Linked DNA regions of Homo sapiens: regions 1 and 2 are each linked to region 3. Evidence: fine-mapped expression QTL. A gene starts in region 3. Each other region holds a variant in brackets. All regions are shown on one strand. Distances are from middle to middle.

Region 1 (5,000 bases), 29 kb before region 3:
GATTGGCCAGGGCCGCTCACACTAGGAAGACCCCGGCCAATCAGTCGCGGAAGGAGACTGGCGTGATAACACTCTAGAAGCTCATTGGAGGCCGAGAAAGAGGCCGACGAGCGGGATTGGTGCCCTGATGGAGCCGGGCCTTTGTTTTCTTCCGCTTACCCCGGCTGGGAGCGCGAACGCTGTGGGGACTGGAGGTGAGGCGGTGGGGCTTAGGATGCGCAGGAGCCCAACGGTGGTCCGCAGTCGGGAGAGCAGTGCGGGGCTGCTTCCTCCCCACTTGGTCAATAAGTCGCCCACGTGTCCGGCCTCGGTGGCTCCTGCCAGCCGGGTGAGCTCTGCAGCCGCTCTCTGTAGAGCCTAAAACCGTGAAAAGGCCGGGCCAGCGCCAAGCTGGGCGTCTTTACTGTAACACACCCGAGCACAGCCCAGCTCGCCTGCCCGCCACCGCCATCCAGCCCCAGGGAGCCCCACACACTCCTGGAGCTTCAGCTGCCCCCTCTCTAGTGTTTACTTGAGATCCAGCTTAGTCCTAGAAAAAGGAGCTGAAGCCTTAGAGAGCCTGTAACAGGAATGTGGAAACTTCTCTCATCCTAGATCTCTCCAGCCCTAGAAACTACTGGCTACCCGTCCAGGCGTGGTGGCTCACGCCTGTAATCGCAACACTTTGGGAGGCCAAGGCGGGTGGATCACGAGGTCAAGAGATCGAGACCATCCTGGCCAACATGGTGAAACCCGTCTCTACTAAAAATACAAAAAAGCCGAGTGTGGTGGTGGGCGCCTGTAGTCCCAACTACTCCGGAGGCTGAGGCAGGAGAATCACTTGAACCCGGGAAGCGGAGTTTGCAGTGAGCCAAGATGACACCGCTGCACTCCAGCCAGGCCAACAGAGCAAGACTACGTCTCCAAAAAAAAAAAAAAACCTACTGGCTACCTAAGCCATCCTGCAGTCTGTTTTAACACAGCAACCAGTAATCCTTTTAAAACCTGTCAGGTCTAGCCGAGCGCGGTGGCTCATGCCTGTAATCCCAGCACTTTGGGAGGCCAAGGCGGGCGGATCACCTGAGGTCTGGAGTTCAAGACCAGCCTGGCCAACATGCTGAAACTGCGTCTCTACTAAAAATACAAAAATTAGCCAGGCATGGTGGCAGGCGCCTATAATCCCAGCTACCTGGGAGGCTGAGGCAGGAGAATCGCTTGAACACAGGAGGCAGAGGTTGCAGTGAGCTGAGATCGCGCTATTGCACTCCAGCCTGGGGGACAAGAGCGAGACTTCATCTCAAAAACAAACAGGAAACCTGTCAGGTACGTTCACTGCCCAAAGCTGTTCAGTGTCTCTCCAACAAAAGCCAAAGCACCTATAGGGATCCTGAGAGGCTGCAGCCTTCCACCCAGATTACCTCTCTGGCCTCCATCTCTTATGCTTTTGCTTTCTCTGGCCCTAGGACTTTTTGTCTAGCTGTTCACTATTCCTGCACTATCCCCCAGATACTGGCTTGACTAACTCCTGTGCCCCTCGAGTCTGCTCACACCTCATCTAGACCCACCTGTTTGCCCTCTCTCACATTTCCACCACTGCTAATCCCAGTGGGGGTCTACTTGCCTATATTTACCATATTCTAATACATCATTTACTTATGTATTAGATTACAGAGTGTTTCCCCTACTACTGTAAACTAAAAATCCTAAGTCCCTACCACTGGACAGCCCTCCCACTCCCCACCTCGGCCAAGGGAACCCCAGAAAAATCTTAAAAACTTAGTTTCCAGCCATGACGGTATAAAAAGTAAAGTAGAGGTTCCTCTTCAAAGACTTTCCTCCCCATTTAATTAGGAATAAATAGTAACTTCTCTTAGAAGCAAACTTTATTCAAAGACCTGTGCTAACATTCTTAAATATCTGCTAGCTATGATAAAGAAATCAATGTACTTCATGTTCTTAGCTCTCACAATTTAGCCTAAATATTTGCCCTGGCATGCTTATAGTGGTCCAAGAAAGCATTAGGTCATAGCCTGTTCCTCTTCCTTATTTGAAGGTGTTTCAACCTTTGTCACCATTCCACAAGTTACTTCCTCCTTCCTTTGTTCTCCTCTACCTTTGCCTCTTTTAAAAACTTCTAAGTTGCTAGCCAATCGGGACAAATACAGAACGTGAGGCACCGTTCCAGCCAATGGAAACTAGACACAAGCAGTGGGGTGGACGAGTCAGGTTATAAATGACCCTGTCTCCTTTGTTTGGTATACTCCCATGGCAAAACTGCTGGCGAGTGTACCCTTTCTGCAGGAAGTAAAAATGGCCTGCTTAGTAAATTAATGTTCAAGCGCCTTTTTTTTTTTTTTTTTTTTTTTTTTTTTTTTGAGACAGAATTTCACTCTTGTTGCCAGGCTGGAGTGCAGTGGCACAGTCTCGGTTCACTGCCACCTCTGCCTTCTGGGTTCAAGTGCTTCTCCTGCCTCAGCCTCCCGAGTAGCTGGGATTACAGGCGCCCAACCACCACGCCTGGGTAATTTTTCGATTTTTAGTAGAGACAGGGTTTCACCATGTTGGCCAGACTGGTCTTGAACTCCTGACCTCATGATCCACCC[T/CACCCT]CCTCGGCCTCCCAAAGTGCTAGGATTACAGGCAAGCCACTGCGCCCAGCCTTCGAGTGCTATTTCTTCTTCATTTTTTTTTTTTTTTTAAATGGAGTCTCACTCTGTCGTGAGGCTGGAGTGCAGTGGCGCGATCTTGGTTCACTGCAACCTCTGGCTCCCAGGTTCAAGTGAGTCTCCTGCCTTAGCCTCCCGAGTAGCTGGAACTACAGGCATGTACCACCACGGCCAGCTAATTTTTTTATTTTTAGTTGAGACAGGGTTTCACCATGTTGGTTAGGATGGTCTCAATCTCTTGACCTCGTGATCCGCCCGCCTCAGCCTCCCCAGGTACTGGGATTACAGGCGTGAGCCACGGCTCCCAGCCTACAAGTGCTATTTCTTTCCAGCACCAGGGAAAAAGCATTTCAAATAACGGGACAGGAGATCAGATAGCCCTCATTGTACCCCCTTCCTTTTGGAGTTCATACACAACTGGCTGGCATTAACATTAAAACAGAGATCATAAGACTAACGGAACAGACTCTGTGGCAATAAGATACCCAATTATAAACAGGACCTAAGGCCATGCAGGCAATGGTGAAGTCAGGCACCCCTACACTTGAAGAATCAACTAAGCTCTAACTGCCACAGGGCTCTTCTTTTTCTCCAGCAGCTAAACGCTGGCCTTGAGATAAGCAATAGTAAAACACCTGCAGCTCCACCAGACAGTGACTAATTGAACCCCTGTTCCACCAGCCATAACTACAGCTTTGACTGGTCAAGAGATTGATCTCAGTAACTTTCTCCTGATAAGACCGCCGACCGTGGACTGGTCTGGCCAGTTTACAGAAACTGTACACTCAAGGCGCCTTCCTGTCCTAAAAAGACCTTTTGACCTATAGGGTGTAATTGTAATGCATTCACATGTTGAGTCTCTATCCCAAAGTGAATATGGGTCATATATTACATACATGTTTGTTCAATGTGTCAGGTCCGCCATCATAAATATTCGTAGCTCCTCTTGTAATCTGTTAAATATGTACGTTTAGCCAACCCAGTCAGCATAAAGCTCCTACCTCAAACGCCTTTTCCTTCAAAGTGCCCGTCTGTGGTCTAAGCTGGAAGCATGCTGTAACCCTTTAGAAGAAATAAAGGCTCTTCTCCCTTTCTAAATTGATAAATCATATTTTTTAAGTCAACACTAGAAATCTAAGCTCAGTGACGACACACCTTTGTTTTGCTCACTAATGTCCCCTCAACCATCTGGAATAGTGCCCAGCACATACTGGCTCAATGAATATTTATTGGGTGCTCAATGAGTATTTATTGAATTGAGCTGCGTATAGGACACGATGGTGCCTAAACAATGCAAAGTTAGTTAACGTGCCCATTCTTTAAATCTCTCTTCCATTAAATCTGCTTCTCCTGTGGATAGCGTTAACAGCCTCTCAGTTTTGTAATCACAAAATCCAGGTGTCATTGATAACGCCCTTTCTCTCCTTATATCCACCCCTTCAAAATCATTCATCAAGTCCTGTGGAGTCCAAGAAAACAAATACCTTTCATTTTAATCTCTCCTCTCTGCTCCATCTTGGTTTAAGCCACATCTTCTTTCCCAAACCATGTTGAAGTTGACTTCCCCTGTCCTTTCCCATATGGCAGGTAGAGTTATTCGTCTAAAACACACACTGGGCTGGGTGCAGTGGCTCACACCTGTAATCCCAGCACTTGGGAAGACCAATGCAGGCGGATCACTTGAGGTCAGGACTTTGAGACCAGCCTGGCTAACATGGTGAAACCCCGTCTCTACTAAAAATACCAAAATTAGCTGAGCGTGGTTGTGGGTGCCTGTAATCCCAGTTACTCGGGAGGCTGAGGCTGGAGAATCGCTTGAACCCACGAGCCGAGATCACCACACCACACTGCAGCCTGGGCAACAAAGTGAGACTCCGTCTCAAAAAAATAAAAAATAAAAACACACACTTGATTATAATCCTTCCATTTTAAATTCCTCCAATGAAATGTCTTCGAATCAATGGATTGATTTAAAGGAAATCAAGCCTTCTGGCATAGAATAAAAACGTCCTTGCCATTTGGCATCTACATCCTTTGTTGGGATTTCAGCCTCCTGTCCACCCATTCTTGTACTACTTTCACACCCTGATCCAGTCCTAGCAGCACTTATTGTCCCCCGAACAGGCTACAGTACTTCACATCCGGCCTTGGCCCAAGCAATTCACCTGCCTGGAATAGGCTTCCTGCTCCTTGCCTAGCCACCTGCCACGCCTCCATTACAGCTCAGGTGGAATCTGCTTCAGGAATCCTTTTCTGGTGTTTCCTGGCCTCTCCTTTATCTGTTCCCCTCCCCCACCGTTTTTTTTGTTTGTTTCTTTTTTTTTTTTTTTTTTTTTTGAGTGTGTGTGAGAGACAGACAGG
Region 2 (7,128 bases), 670 kb after region 3:
AGGTGGAAGTCATAAATTCTATTCTTTTTTAAAAATGAGGCCAAGTGGATTGGCTCACACTTGTAATCCCAGCACTTTGGGAGGTCGAAGTGGGTAGATTGCTTGAGCCCAAGAATTTCGAGACCAGCCTGGGCAACGTGGCAAGACCCCGTCTCTACAAAAAATACGGAAAATTAGCTCGGCATGATGGCTTATGCCTGTAGTCCCAGCTACTTGGGAGGCTGAAGTGGAAGGATCGCCTGAGTCTGGGGAGGTCGAGACTGCAGTGAGCTGAGATTGTGCTACTGCACTCCACCCTGGGCGACAGAGTTAGACCCTGCCTCAAAACAAAACAAAATGAAAAGAAAAAAAATGAGCCCTACTTAAACTGGCTGCACCCCCTCTCCCTCCCAGCGCCCAACCCGCTAGGGTGCCCTACTCCCCCGTGCCTCAGGGCCCTTGCATTTGCTGCTCGCTTTGTCTAGGATGCTCCTCCCCATGTGCTTATGGCTCCATCTCTGCTAAATTGTCTCCTCCGCAGAGAGGGCTCTGCCCAGCCTGTCTAGAGTGGCACCTCTGCCATGGTCTCCCTTAACTTCCTCATCACCTCCATCATGACCTCACATTATAGTTTTGTCTCCTCCGCTAAATATATGCTCAGGGAGGGCAGGGGCTTTGTTTTGTTGGTGGCTGTTTTTTCAAGACCTAGAACAATGCGTGAGACACATTAGAAATTCAATACCTATATAATATTTGAGCGAGTGAATGAGTAAATCCTTCATTGCCCTTGCCTAGGGAGTTGCAAGGAAACTTGGAGATTTTAAAGAATGTGGATTTAGAAGTAAAGAAAGTAAAGGAGTTATGAAAAAAATCCAGCGACTGTAAGAGAGGAGCTGATCTCAGAGCTCGCTCTCCAGGCAGGGCTGCCCTGCCCAGCAGTGCCATTCCTGCCTCCAGCCCCTTCTCTCCCAGAATTTTCACTTGAAGCCAGAGCCTAAAATTCCCCCAGTTGGAGGTTGACTTGTGCTAATGATAAGCATCATCTTTTAAAAATGTTTTAGTAGATTCAGCCATTTAACAGGTATTTATTGGGCAGCAGCAATGGTGTGGCTATTGTGTTAGAGGCCAGGGTGACAAAAGTCAGCTGGACAGCCTTGCCAAGCTTCCAGATTTTCGATGTGACTTTGGTTGGACGATTGCCCTCCTGCTGTACCCAGCTAAGAGAAGAGATCTGAAGAAAGGAGATGTGGTTCAGTGGAGCGGGAGCTGTAATAGGGTGCCTGCCTCTTCCCAGGGAGGTGGCAGCTGCTGCTTTTTGGACAGAGGAGGGCGAAAATGGACAGCGTGCCTACCTGGTGGGGCGTTGAGGGTGCCCAGGGGCTAGGGAAGGGGGAAGAAGCTCATTATTCTCCTAGACTATACCCATAAAGAAAATTCTTATTAATACCCCTTTCTATGTTACACCTACATGAGCTCAATTCAGAACCTAATAATCATTTTTTTTTCCATGGGGGAATGTTCCAGAAGTTTCCAAGATGCAAAGTCTATTTAAAACCAACTTTTGAAACAGAACAGAATTTGTATTTCTCCCTCCTAGCCCCACTTAAGATTCAAAAGAAAGTAAAGCTTTTTATTCGTCCAAGAATGTGAATAGACTAATAGTTAAGGGAACAAGATTTCTAAGAGGTTCTTATCACTTGTGCAAGCAATAAATAAATTATTCAAAAATAAACTTTCCACATACTATAAAAGAGGTACCTTGAACCTTTCTGTAAGGGATATTTAATTGGAAACAGGAACATAATTCAAACATGCATGACCACATAGTCATCCTAGCCTATGGAGAAAGCTTTTCGGCATAGTTCTGATGAGACAAGAGTTCCTGTCCCAGTTGTGAAATTACCAAGATACAGTTCCAAATTGTGCTTTCTGACACCTCGTATTCCGTGAGTGAGAAGTACACACAGCATTAGTAGCGTCAGGAAAAACTCGAGACTGCTAAAAATAGGACCTCAAGTTCACCGAGTCCACTGGGTCCTCTTGCTCACGTACCAGCTCTTAGAAATAATGCTACCAGGATTGACAGGCCTCCAGCTCAGTCCTCAAACTTTGTGTGTGTGTGCGCGCGCGCCTGTGTGTCGTGCATGTGTGTGTGCATGCGTGTGTGTGTGTTGTGCGTGTGTGAGTGCGTGTGTGTGTGTGAGAGAGTCACCTGGGGATCTAGTTCAATTGCAGATTCCAATTCGGTATTTCTGGAGTGGGTCGTGGGATTCTGCCTTCCTAACAAGCCGGAAGTCGAAGCCAGTGCTGCTGGTCTGTAAACTGCAGAGCCTAGCAAGGCTCTAGCTTGCCAACAACTTTCACAACAGTGTATGCTGGGGGAGCCCCCCTGCAAAATTGCACCGGTTCCCAGAAATCACCAGTCTCACCAGTTGATATTACGTATTTGATGGGCATGTGATTATTTTTGACTTCCACGTGAATTCTCATCTTGCCTTAGATGTTACTAACACTATAGCAAATAGCTTTAAAAAAAAAAACTGTAGAATTTACGATGTATTTAGTAATACTTTACATTTGTATAATTTTTTTTTTTTTTTTTTTTTGAGATGGAGTCTAGCTCTTGTCCCCCAGGCTGGAGTGCGGTGGCGTGATCTTGGCTCACTGCAGCCTCCGCCTCCTGGGTTCAAGCGATTCTGCTGCCTCAGCCTCCCAAGTAGCTGGGACCACAGGTGTGCACCACCACGCCCGGCTAATTTTGTATTTTTAGTAGAGATGGGGTTTCACCATGTTGACCAGGCTAGTCTTGAACTCCTGACCTCGGTTGATACGCCCACCCCGGCCTCCCAAAGTGCTGGGATTACAGGTGTGAGACACCGCACCCAGCCTGTATAATTTTTTTAACCAATATTTATTGCCTTTTTTTTTTTAAAAAAAAAAAGAAAATATTGCCCTGTGTGTTCAGCAGTGCTGGTATTATCTACTTTTACACATAAGAAAATGGGTTCAAAGTGGCATATTGCTCAAGTTTATGCTGGAACCCAAGTTTTCTAACTTCTCGTGGAATGTTTGCATTGTACCAACTCTGGCTGCAGTATTGCATCCTGAATGTAGAAGTGGTGAGTGGGAGGGTGTGACGAAAATGACATTTCTGGAAACCCAATGGGGAAAATACACAAATACTTTTATTATCACTTTGTGTCTCTTGAGGGCTTATGAGTGGGACCAAGTGGGCTAAGGAGACAAAGTCTATATGAGAGTTCTTAGCCTTGCCATGTCAGATGGCAAGTGTCCTGTTGCTGATGACAAACTTACTTGACTATCTCTGAGGAAATCAGATTTAACTTGACTCTAGGCAACCTTCCATCTTCTGGATGGAACTGAAACTTGAGAACTCAGTGGCATTGATTGATGGAGCACACCGTTCTCATCAGATGGTACAAAGGATGTGCAAATCATATGCAAGTGGGCGAAATCTCTCAGAATCTGCCATCCTGAAACCAAATGTCTTCATTCCAGCTAGATTTTCATTTGGTGTTTGGGTGACATTCAGTGAGGTCTTGAGTATGCATATTCTTCATATGGTATTTGTTGAAAAACAGCTAAAAACTGCAATACAAAGATAAGAAGACACCAACATGGAAGTCAGTTGTAGACTTTGTCGGCTGGAGCCCAAGGACCCAGCTGTTGGCAGGAGGCCTGCCTGTCCTGGGTTGATGGGATGTGGGGCAAAGTGGACCTCATGGGGGCCTTTGACTCTCATGGTTACTTTTTCCAGGAAAAGGCTGCTTGACTAACATCGGTCCATCTTCCTTTTCCAAGCATTTGCCACTGAGGAGTGCAATGGTAGCATGGAAAGCTTTGATCCGTCTGATACCTTATTCAGTTCAGATACACCAATGCCTTCGTTGTGCAGTATTCTAATGGTGTTTTGTTAAAAACATAATACATGTTCACTGCAAAAAATTAGAAATTAAAGGAAACTGTAAAATTATTTTTATTATTAAAGTTTTGTAACCTACTCTTCCGTGTAAAACTATTTGAATGTTCCACCAAATTTTGAGATAAGATTTAAAA[GT/T]ATTTGTTGACAAGTTGGCATTCCATCAGATGGATGCATGCCAGCTTATCCAGGCATCTGTTACTGATGAACTTTTAGCCTGTTTCTTATTATGTAATAGGTTATGCTGCAAGGAAGTATCCTTGTACTGAATCTTTGTATACATCTCTGCTTATTTCCTTAGGGTAAATACTGAGAAGTGGAATCACCAATTCAAAAGATATTTTAAAAATATCTGTTGGATGAATTATTAACTTTTGTCACTGGTACATATATTTTCCCTCATTTATTCTTTAGCTTTGTTGATAGCATTTTTGACATTCAGAAAAGTTTACTTTTATCTAGTCAAATTTGTCAAGTTTTTATTTTATGCTTTCTTCTGCTCTTGTGGTTAAAAATGTCTTCCCAATCCAAAAATAAAATGACAATTAAAGTTAGTTTTAATCATAGACTTAATTGGAAAACAGTGGAATTACTAATTGGCAGCAAGTGTTTTGAGGAACATACAACCATGAATTAAATGTGGTCTAGTCTTAACCAGATATATGCATCAGAATCACCCGTTTGAGCTTTTAAATGTTACCAGTGCCTGGGTCATATCCCAGATCCACTGAATCAGAAAATGTTTTTGAAAAAGACCTTCCATAAGCCCACAAACTTACAAAGGAGGAGAGCCAAGTTGCACATGATATATACATATATATTTTGGCTTGAGTTACTCATTAGATTTATTGGCATGGCGGGTGCGTTTTGTCACAGTCAGTACATCTGTTCACTAGGAGAATCAGGCTGTCATTCTAGCTTCCAGAAGAAAGGAGATTCAGAACAGTGTGTGCTGGGGGAGCCCCTGCAAAATTGCACTGGTGCCTAAAAGCACCAGTCTCACAAGTCAGTGTTACCTATTTGACTGGCATGTGATCATTTCTGACTTCCATGCTGATTCTCATGCTTGTCTTAGGTGTTACTAACACTACAGCAAGTAGCTTCTTAAAAAGAAAAAACTTAGAAGATACAATATATTTAAGAATACCTTACATTCATATAATTCTTAAAACCAAGATTCATTGCTGTTTGATATATAGCAGAATCTCATTTGAGATGGAGGGTTGACCTTGCAGATAATATTTGCAGTTTGGGGAAAGAAAGTCAACCAAAAATGTCCACTTACGTATTTGCACAAACTTGAACGCTACTCATGAGTTAATATTGAAAATACATCCCTGTTTCTCTAGCCTGGAGCTGCAGGCTTTCTCGTTAAAGATTTTATAAGGAAATTTGCCTTTGTATCAGCCTACTTTTTTTCTTTCCAACTTTTACTTTAAGTTCAGAGGTACATGTGCAGGATGTGCAGGTTTGTTACATAGGTTAGCATGTGCCGTGGTGGTTTGCTTCACAGAGCATCCCATCACCCAGGTATTAAGCTCAGCACCCACTAGCTGCTCTTCCTGATGCTCTCCCTCCTTCAGCCTATTTTTTAGTGGCATTCTGTGTTTTAAAGAAGCAGCAGTCAGTCTGCAGGAGAGGAGAGGGAAGGTGCAGGCAGGCCTGGGCTTTGGGTAAGTAACTTGGGAATCTTGGAGCCTCAGAAATGATGATGCTGATGATGACATTGACAATGCTGACGTTGATGCCACCCCAGAGGTCTGTGAGGATGATAGGTGTGGTCATCTGCCTAGTGTCTGGCTGCTAGTAACCACTCCATCGATGTCGGTCCCACCAGCCCCCAGTCTGTGCACTGCAGTGGATGATTTGAAGTGGGGTATTTGGGAGACAGAGGGTTCCCAGGAGAAGTCCCTTTCTGTTTCTGAGGTCCTCTGATCCATTTGAGAGGGAAATTACAAATGCCCCCAAATGAAAAGTAGATAATGGCCGGGTGTAGTGGCTCTGGCCTGTACTCCCAGCACTTTGGGAGGTTGAAGGGGGACGATCACTTGAGGCCAGGGGTTTCAGACCAGTCTGGTCAACATAGTGAAATCCCTTATCTACCAAAAATACAAAACATTAGCTGGGCATGGTGGTGCACACCTGTAATCGCTGGTACTCAGGAGGCTGCAGCAGGAGAATCGCTTGAACCCCGGAGACAGAGGTTGCAGTGAGCCGAGATACATACATATATATGTATATATCATGTGCAACTTGGCTCTGCTCCTTTGTAAGTTTGTGGGCTTATGGAAAGTCTTTTTAAAAAACGTTTTCTGATTCAGTGGATCTAGGATATGACCACGGCACTCCAGCCTGGGCGACACAGCAAGACTCTGTCAAAAAAAAAAAAAGGCCGGGCGCGGTGGCTCACGCCTGTAATCCCAGCACTTTGGGAGGCCGAGGCGGGTGGATCATGAGGTCAGGAGATCGAGACCATCCGGGCTAACACGGTGAAACCCCCATCTCTACTAAAAATACAAAAAATTAGTCTGGCGTGGTGGCGGACACCTGTAGTCCCAGCTACTTGGGAGGCTGAGGCAGGAGAATGGCGTGAACCCGGGAGGCAGAACTTGCAGTGAGCCGAGATCACGCCACTGCACTCCAGCCTGTGCGACAGAGCGAGACTCCATCTCAAAAAAACAAACAAAAAAAATTACATAATGTAAAGACCCTGAAGTATAAAGGGTAAATTTTGAATTATAGAGAGTACATTTATTTCTTATAAGAAATGAAAAAAGGGAAAGATAGGCGTGACTTGAAGTAGTTATTCACTAGTTTTTATATCCTTTTCCAATATTTAAGTATAAAATACTTAAACTAAATTTGAAGGCATCTTAGAGAATTTCAAGAAGAAGAAAAGGACCATGTTGCCAACATCTGGCTATTATAACTAAGAGACTAAGGATGTGGCCGGGCACTAAGTGCTGCTGGCACAAGACGCCACCCACAGTGGAGTGCGGGGAGCAGGGAAGCACCAGAACTGCTCGCAGAAAAGTTTTTCTTGCATAGCCATCTTCGTGCTAAGGGCAGTGGGTGAGGCTTTGACTTGAGATAAAAGCTGGGCTAGAAAGCTGGGGAAGATCTGGGCGTGGTGGCTCACTCCTGAAATCTCAGCACTTTGGGAGGCCGAGGTGGGCGGATCACCCGAGGTCAGGAGTTCGACACTAGCC
Region 3 (7,028 bases):
GGGGTGGAATAATATAACTCCCATGATTCCCATGTGTTATGGGACGGACCTGGTGGGAGGTACCCAGTGGGAGGTAATTGAATCATGGGGGCTGTTCTCGTGATAGTAAATAAGTCTCAAGAGATCTGATGGGTTTTTTGTTGTTGTTGTTTTTCAGATGGAGTCTCACTCTGTTGCTGAGGCTGGAGCGCAGGTGCGATCTCAGCTCACTGCAACCTCTGTCTCCTGGGTTCAAGCAATTCTCCTGCCTCAGCCTCCCAAGTAGCTGGGATTACAGGCGCCCACCACCATGCCCAGCTAATTTGTGCATCTTTAGTAGAGATGGGGTTTAACATGTTGGCCAGGCTGGTCTCAAACTCCTGACCTCAGGCGACCTGCCCACCTCTGCCTCCCAAAGTGCTGGGATTACAGGCATGAGCCACTGCACCTGGCCTGACGGTTTTATAAATGGTAATTCCCCTGCACAAGCTCTCTTGCCTTCCACCATGTAGGATGTGCCTTTGTTTCCCCTTCGCCTACTGCCATAATTGCGAGGCCTCCCCAGCCATGCAGAACTGTGAGTCCATTAAACCTCTTTCCTTCATAAATTACCCAGTCTTGGAAGGGGAGAGTAGAAGGAGCTTGGTTTCCAATGTTGCTCCTATACCACCCTGGACTGTTCCATTACTGGAGGAGGAGAAAACCATGAGCTAGAGTAGCCATTTTTCTGAGTCTGTTATGAGTAATCCAACACAACTCCTATATAGAAAATGGAGAGCTGACAAGAAAAGGATGTGCCAGACAAACAGATGGCACAGAGTGCAGCCAAGCTCCCTCCTGCCTCATCAACTCACCCTGCTCACTCCACCTCCATCGGCCCGCCTGTAACTGCTTCTCAAGCCTGAAATGCCCTTTCCTCCCTCTTCAGTCCACTGAAATCCTCCAGCCTTCAAGGCCCAACTCAAGTCCTACCTCCTGCACATCTTCTCCAGGCCACCGGGACCTCTTCCTGTCAGGGTCATTACCTGGGCCTTTATGATGTGCTCTGCCCTCCCCATTTAGCATAGCTTAATAGTGTGGCCTGTGTCGATACAAGCCGTATGTTCTCAATTCAGTTCTAAGTTCCTAGGGTCAGGGACCCGCCGACAGGGAGAAGCAGGGAAGGGCGCTCACTTCAAAGCACTGCCAGGCAGCCCCGAAGGTTCCCTGCAACCTTAGGTTCCCTGCAACATGGTTTTCTGCTTGGTTTACTGGGAAAGCAGCTCCCAGTCCCGTCTACGGGTTCCTTCACCGCACATCCATCTGCCCACCCATCCACTTGGGAAATATTCTCTTACAGCCAGCTCTGTGGCAGACACCCTGGTAAGTGCTGGGGATCCAGAGACAAGAGACAATTCTGCCCCTGCAAACCTCGAAGGACAGTGTGTACAAAGAGGCCACAGTCCTGGAGGCCATGGGACCCCGTGCTCTCACCTGTTCCTTGCCAGCCACCTGAGCTTGGGCTAAGTACTCCCTTCTCCGAGCCTCAGTCTCCAAAGGAATCAACTATGGGTACAGGGCTACAGGATCTCTTCCAGTTCTAACTAACAACGGTTTTAAAACCTCTGTGTGTGTGTGTTGCGGGGGTGGGGGGTGAGGGCAAGATGGAAGAAAGGGAACTAGTACTTATGGAGTACCCGTTATGTGCCAGGCATAAACTCTACTTAAAACAACAACTTTAAGAGGTCAATGGCTTATCTCCATTCTACAATAGAAGAAAGAGCTATGAGATGAACATGCTTAAGAGCACACGGCTAAGCAGCAGCAGAGCGCGTGAGCTCATCCACAGGCACCACCCGTGCTTCCTACGTGCCGGCACTCAGCTAAGTGCTGGGGGCACAATACTGGCGAGGAGCAGCCCCTGCCCTCTGCATCTGTCCTCTCCCCTCAACAAGCAGAACAACTCAGTAAAAAGGGAAGAACAGGAGGAAGTACATGATGTCCTGGAAGCACAGAGATGGAGTCTCCTTCCCACCTAAAGCAGACAGGGCAGGCTTCTCTGAGGATGCAATGGCCAAGTGGAAGCTGGAAGACCAGGAATTACCATTATAAATTGAGGGAACAGGGGCAGAGTTGGGAGAAAAAGGAAGAAGTGCTTGAGCAGGGGGCAGCAAGTGAAAACCACGGACAGAAACACTAAGAAGAGCCAAAGGCAGTTTCATCGATCAGAAGACAGGTTTGGGGCAGGATAAGAAGGCTAGAGAGGGAGGCAGTGGTGAGAAAACAGGGAGCTCCGTGAGCCCCTGGAAGGATGAGCTGGTTTGAACCTAGATCTGAAGGTTCTGCTCTTTTCTTTTCTTTTTTTTGAGACGGAGTCTCACTCTGTCACCCAGGCTGGAGTGCAGTAGCACAATCTCATCTCACTGCAATCTCGGCCTCCCGGGTTCAAGCAATTCTCCTGCCTCAGCTTCCCGAGCAGCTGGGATTACAGGCGCCCACCACCACACCCAGCCAATTTTTGCATTTTTAGTAGAGACGGGGTTTCATCATGTTAGCCAGGCTGGTCTTGAACTCCTGACCTAGTGATCCACCCGCCTCGGCCTCCCAAAGTGCTGGGATTACAGGTGCGAGCCACCGTGCCCAGCCGGTTCTGCTCTGTCCTTAATTCTCCACTGGCTCAGGGGAATAGAACACAGTTCCCAGCCAAAGGTGCCCATCAGCTGCGGCCGGAGAGAATAGGAGCACTCCAGACCCTCTGAATCGGGGTCTCCAGCTCATCCACACGTGTTCTTTACAGTTCTACAGTCCACAGCGATATCTACTTCTGGCTGAGACACGTGAGACTGAAAGAGGGAGCTGCATGGAGTCCGAGCTTGGTGGTTCCGGACTCAGGGAAGTGACACCCTGAGACATATGGGGATAGATCCTAGGGGAGGCGCAGGATGGGCGACAGAGCCAACCCTTCAGAGGAGTATTACCTCACCTGGGTGTCCTGGAGCCACAGAGACTGCAGGCTGGCGGGCTGTAGCTTCTTACTGCTGCCCCCTGTCTTGACCACCTGCTGACCCACAAAGGGGGAGACCAAATGGTGAAATTTCCTCACCAACGGCCCTTCTGGCATCCCTGTGGGCAGAAATGGGCAAAAGAGGCCACCGACTTAGCTCATTTATCTCTAGCATCTTTAACAGGTGCCAAGCATCCTCCATGCCGCCATTTTTGCTGCCAACTAACTTTAAGAGCAAGCATGGCCAAAAAGGGAGTGTGGCTGGGAGGCGGTCAGATCATAGAGAAGAGCAGCTGTGGCAGGGTGTGGGAAACGTAGCAGGAAAGGCAGCCCCTCTTACCTTTCTTCATGCAGCAAACACTTATTAAGCACCAACAGTGTGCTAGGCAGCACATCATGGGCACCATCCACTTTATTCCTGAGCGGCACCTGCCACACCAGGAGCTGGCCTTTGTTACTTTTTGCCTGGACTGTGAACCTCTAACACCTCCTGACTTTCTCTGTCCCCCTGCTCCCGCTCTCAAAAAACAGCCATTCTGACCCACTGCTGCCGACTTATTTCCCACTTTTGAAGGGACCAGATGCCGCCCTCCAGGACCGCCGACCACTAGCGTGGGGGAGGTGTGCATGAAACGACCAACACGCAGACAGAGCTCAGAATCATAAGTGAGACCCCCAGCCACGTAGGTAAGCCCGGCATAGCTACAGACAGTTATCTCTGATCCCCGAGAAACAGCTGTGGTTCTGTTCTAATCACCACGCAGGGCTCCCAGGGCCACCTCTACTCTCCCTGCCCCCAAATCATCCCAGTCCACTGACAGCCGCCTACATGAGGCAGTCTGAGTGGTGTACACCCGGGCTGTTCGGGCAGAGGAGACTCCCAGCCTCACCCGGGGCAGCTGCCTAACCACCTGTTCCTGCACCAGCCTCTCTATAAGTTATGATGAAAATCGAAAAGAACTAAGTAGATATCGGGCAGGGGGTAGCTATTATATTTCAGTGATTCTAAAAAACATTTTAGAATACTTTTAAAATCTAAGAAATGGTGACGGCTCACAATCTCGGCATTCTCATATTCGGCAGCAGCACATTCAATAACGCGCATCTTACACTCGCTGGTGCCGATTCGCTGAGATGTACTATTTCCCCTCATCAGGCTTTCCAGACACTCCCCAGGGAATCCTGACAAAACCGCCAGGCTGGAAGGAGACGTGCCAAACGCTGCTGACCTTAACCAGTTGGATGCCTGATCCTCTTCTACGGGGAAGCTTCTGGAAAAGCCTTCATCTGAAATGCACCAAGTCCTGAAAATCTCCGGACACGTGGGCATGTTTCGTTTAGGGATTTTTATGGAGATGGACAGGTGGGAAGCAAGCCGCCTCTGCAACAGCCTTGAAAGATGAGACGCGGAAGGGACTTCGAAGAGTCGCTGAAGATGCCGCGCCCACCCTCCGGCCCTCCCTGCCCGGGGGCTACCGAGGAGCTCGAGGCTGGCGCTGCGCCAGCCAGGGAAGAGGAGGGGTTGTCTCCGCCGTTCTCTTCCGAGTGCCCGAGGTGGGGGGTCTAAGACCACTGCTTTCCCAACTCTGCCTCGGGGTGCGGGGAGAGGGGCGCAGACGCGGGTCTGAGGGTCAGTGGGGGCCTCCAGGCGTGGGCAGCACCTCCGCAGGCGGCTGAGACGGAGGAGGGCCCGGGGCCCGCCCTCCCTTCCTGTCCCCTCCCGACTTCTCCGCCAGGCCGCAGATCTACCGGAGGGCGGGCGGCTGCACTCACCGGCTCCGGGTGGGTGGCACGTCGGCCCGACCCAGCACCGCTACGCAGCCCGCACAGCCGCTCCAGCTGGGGGCGGAGATTTCCCGGCTCGGCGGCCCATGCGGCCTCCGTCCCCTTAGGGGACGCCCCTGTAGGTGGAGGCTGCGGGGCTCCTCCCCCAAGTGGGCGTGGACTCCGGCCTGGAGGGGGTGGCGGGGTGCGCGCAGGCGCAGGGCTCATTCCCTGGAAAGTGGGTCTAGGTCGAGGCTGCTCTTTTGTGGGTGGGCGAGGGGTTCCATCCCGGGGGTCGCTGGAGGCAGGGCTGCATTAGAGGGTCGCGAGTGAAAGCAGGGATGGAAGAAGGGTGCAGGCTGGGACTAACATTGGAGAGACGCTCTTGGAAACTTTTTTTTTTTGCGGGGGGAGATAGTCTCGCTGTGTCACCCAGGCTGGAGTGCAGTGGCGCGATCTCGGCTCACTGCAACCTCCGCCTCCTGGGCTTAAGCCATTCTCCTGCCTCAGCCTCCCGAGTAGCTGGGATTACTGGCGCCCGGCTAATTTTTGTATTTTTAGTAGAGACCGGGTTTCACCATGTTGGCCAGGCTGGTCTTGAACTCCTGATCTCAGGTGAGCCGCCCTCCTCGGCCTCCCAAAGTGGTGGGATTACAGGCGTGAGCCACCGCACCCGGCCCTTTTGGAACATTTCTTGTCTCAAGGAGACAGTTATAGGGAAAAGTCAATGGGTGTGTGAATGGGACAGCCTGGGTGTTCCCACAATGGCAAGCCTTTCTGTGGGTTCTGCTTGGCCTCCGAGCCTAATGAAGTCGGGTGCAAAGGAAACAGGTGTTCAAGACTCGTGAAATGTTGAACGGGTGGGATTTTTTTGCTTTCTATTATTTGAATTTTATTACTTGAATTTTTACTATAAGCAAATTTTGCTTAAAGTATTTGTGTATTAAATTTTTTATTTCATAGAATAAAAGAGATAAAACAATAGGCTGTTTAAAGATACATATGTTTTCTTGTCTTTAGTTCTCGAAGGAGGATGGGGAGCCAGCACTTTCCAGGAAGTTGGGAGGAAAGTCTGGGGAACTCCCCAGCAGGTGTTCAGGAAATAGGCTGGGGTGAAGTCACCATGGACCCTAGCTGAGGGGTCCCTGGGGAAGGACTTGGTCAGCACAGGGAAACAAGCCCAGCCCACCGTCAGAGACATGGTTGTGTCCTACTGATTGAGAGGGAGGTTACAAGTGGCCTTCCCACAGTGGTCACCTACTGAACAGGCTAGGGCAGGAGGTGAGGAGAGGGAGGCCTGGGGAGGCCTAGGGTATAGGGTCCTCATCTAGAAAGGCATCTGGAGGCAGAGGGGATGAGGTTGGAGGGCATGGGGTTTGCAGGAGGCATCCCTTGAAGAGCCTCTGGTCCCCCTCTTTCTATGTCCGGCCTTTTCTGGAGAATAACGACCCCCCCACCCCCAGGATGCCCCTGCTATAGGATCAGGCTCACCACAATGGTAGCTTCTGGGCCCCCTAGTTTCTCTTTCTGTAGAGTGGCTGAGCCGGGAGGGAAGCCGTAGCCACAGTCCTCGCCTTACCTGGTGGAATGAATGCCTGGTGCCTAAAGGGGTTCTTCTGAGGCTAAGGGGCTATGCAATTGAAAATCTCATGGTTCACAGCTTGGCTCTGTCATTGATTGTTATTGTTTATTGAGCGCGTACTATGTGCAAAACACTGTTGTGAGCTCTTTGCATATATTGCTTCATTATTAGTTGTGGGGATACAAGCAAGTCACAGTATCTCTGACTTCATTCATTAAATGGGATATCTATTAAATGGTATTATAGAAATATCACAAAGCCACGCTTCTCAAACTTCAATGTACCTATGAATCCCCTGGGAACCTTGTTTAAATGCAGATTCTAAGGTCTATACCAGGGCCCAAGATGTTGCCTTTCCAGCAAGCTGCTGGGTGACGCTGATGCTGTGGTCTAGGGGCCACATTTTTGTTTTGTTTTGTTTTCCGTGACATAGTTTCACTCTTGTTGCCCAGGCTGGAGTGCAACCCAGGCACGATCCCAGCTAACTGCAACCTCTGCCTCCTGGGTTCAAGGGATTCTCCCGCCTCAGCCTCCCAAGTACCTGGGATTACAGGCACGCACAAGCATGCCCAGCTAATTTTTGTATTTTTAGTAGAGACAGGGTTTCTCCATGTTGGCCAGGCTGGTCTCGAACTCCTAACCTAGGTGATCCTCCCTCCTTGGCCTCCCAAAGTGCTGGGATTACAGGTTTGAGCCACCGCGCCCGGCCCTAGGGGCTAC

Evidence for each region.
Region 1: its variant is fine-mapped to the expression of NEIL2 in fibroblasts (GTEx, PIP above 0.99).
Region 2: its variant is fine-mapped to the expression of NEIL2 in testis (GTEx, PIP above 0.99).

What each region holds. Positions count from the first base shown.
Region 1 is chr8:11,797,615-11,802,614 of GRCh38, reverse strand. LOC105379243 (a long non-coding RNA gene) reads left to right here and starts at 1,260. Exons shown (of 3, transcript XR_948962.4): 1 at 1,260-1,302. It also overlaps a transcript of FDFT1 not described here. RefSeq lists silencers at 1-75, 2,253-2,312 and enhancers at 146-305, 343-1,084, 1,085-1,827, 1,957-2,600. The variant T/CACCCT (reference allele first, on the strand shown) is at 2,583.
Region 2 is chr8:11,093,265-11,100,392 of GRCh38, reverse strand. All of the region lies in intron 1 of XKR6 (XK related 6), which reads left to right. Among named protein-coding and RNA genes, the nearest start is that of MIR598, 62 kb to the right of the region's middle. The variant GT/T (reference allele first, on the strand shown) is at 4,057.
Region 3 is chr8:11,767,499-11,774,526 of GRCh38, reverse strand. NEIL2 (nei like DNA glycosylase 2) reads right to left here and starts at 4,817. Exons shown (of 5, transcript NM_145043.4): 1 at 4,192-4,817; 2 at 2,942-3,081. The coding sequence starts at 3,079. It overlaps LOC124901888 (a long non-coding RNA gene), which reads left to right and starts at 3,077. Exons shown (of 2, transcript XR_007060824.1): 1 at 3,077-3,649; 2 at 4,119-5,725. RefSeq lists silencers at 4,427-4,556, 4,597-5,006 and an enhancer at 4,167-4,667.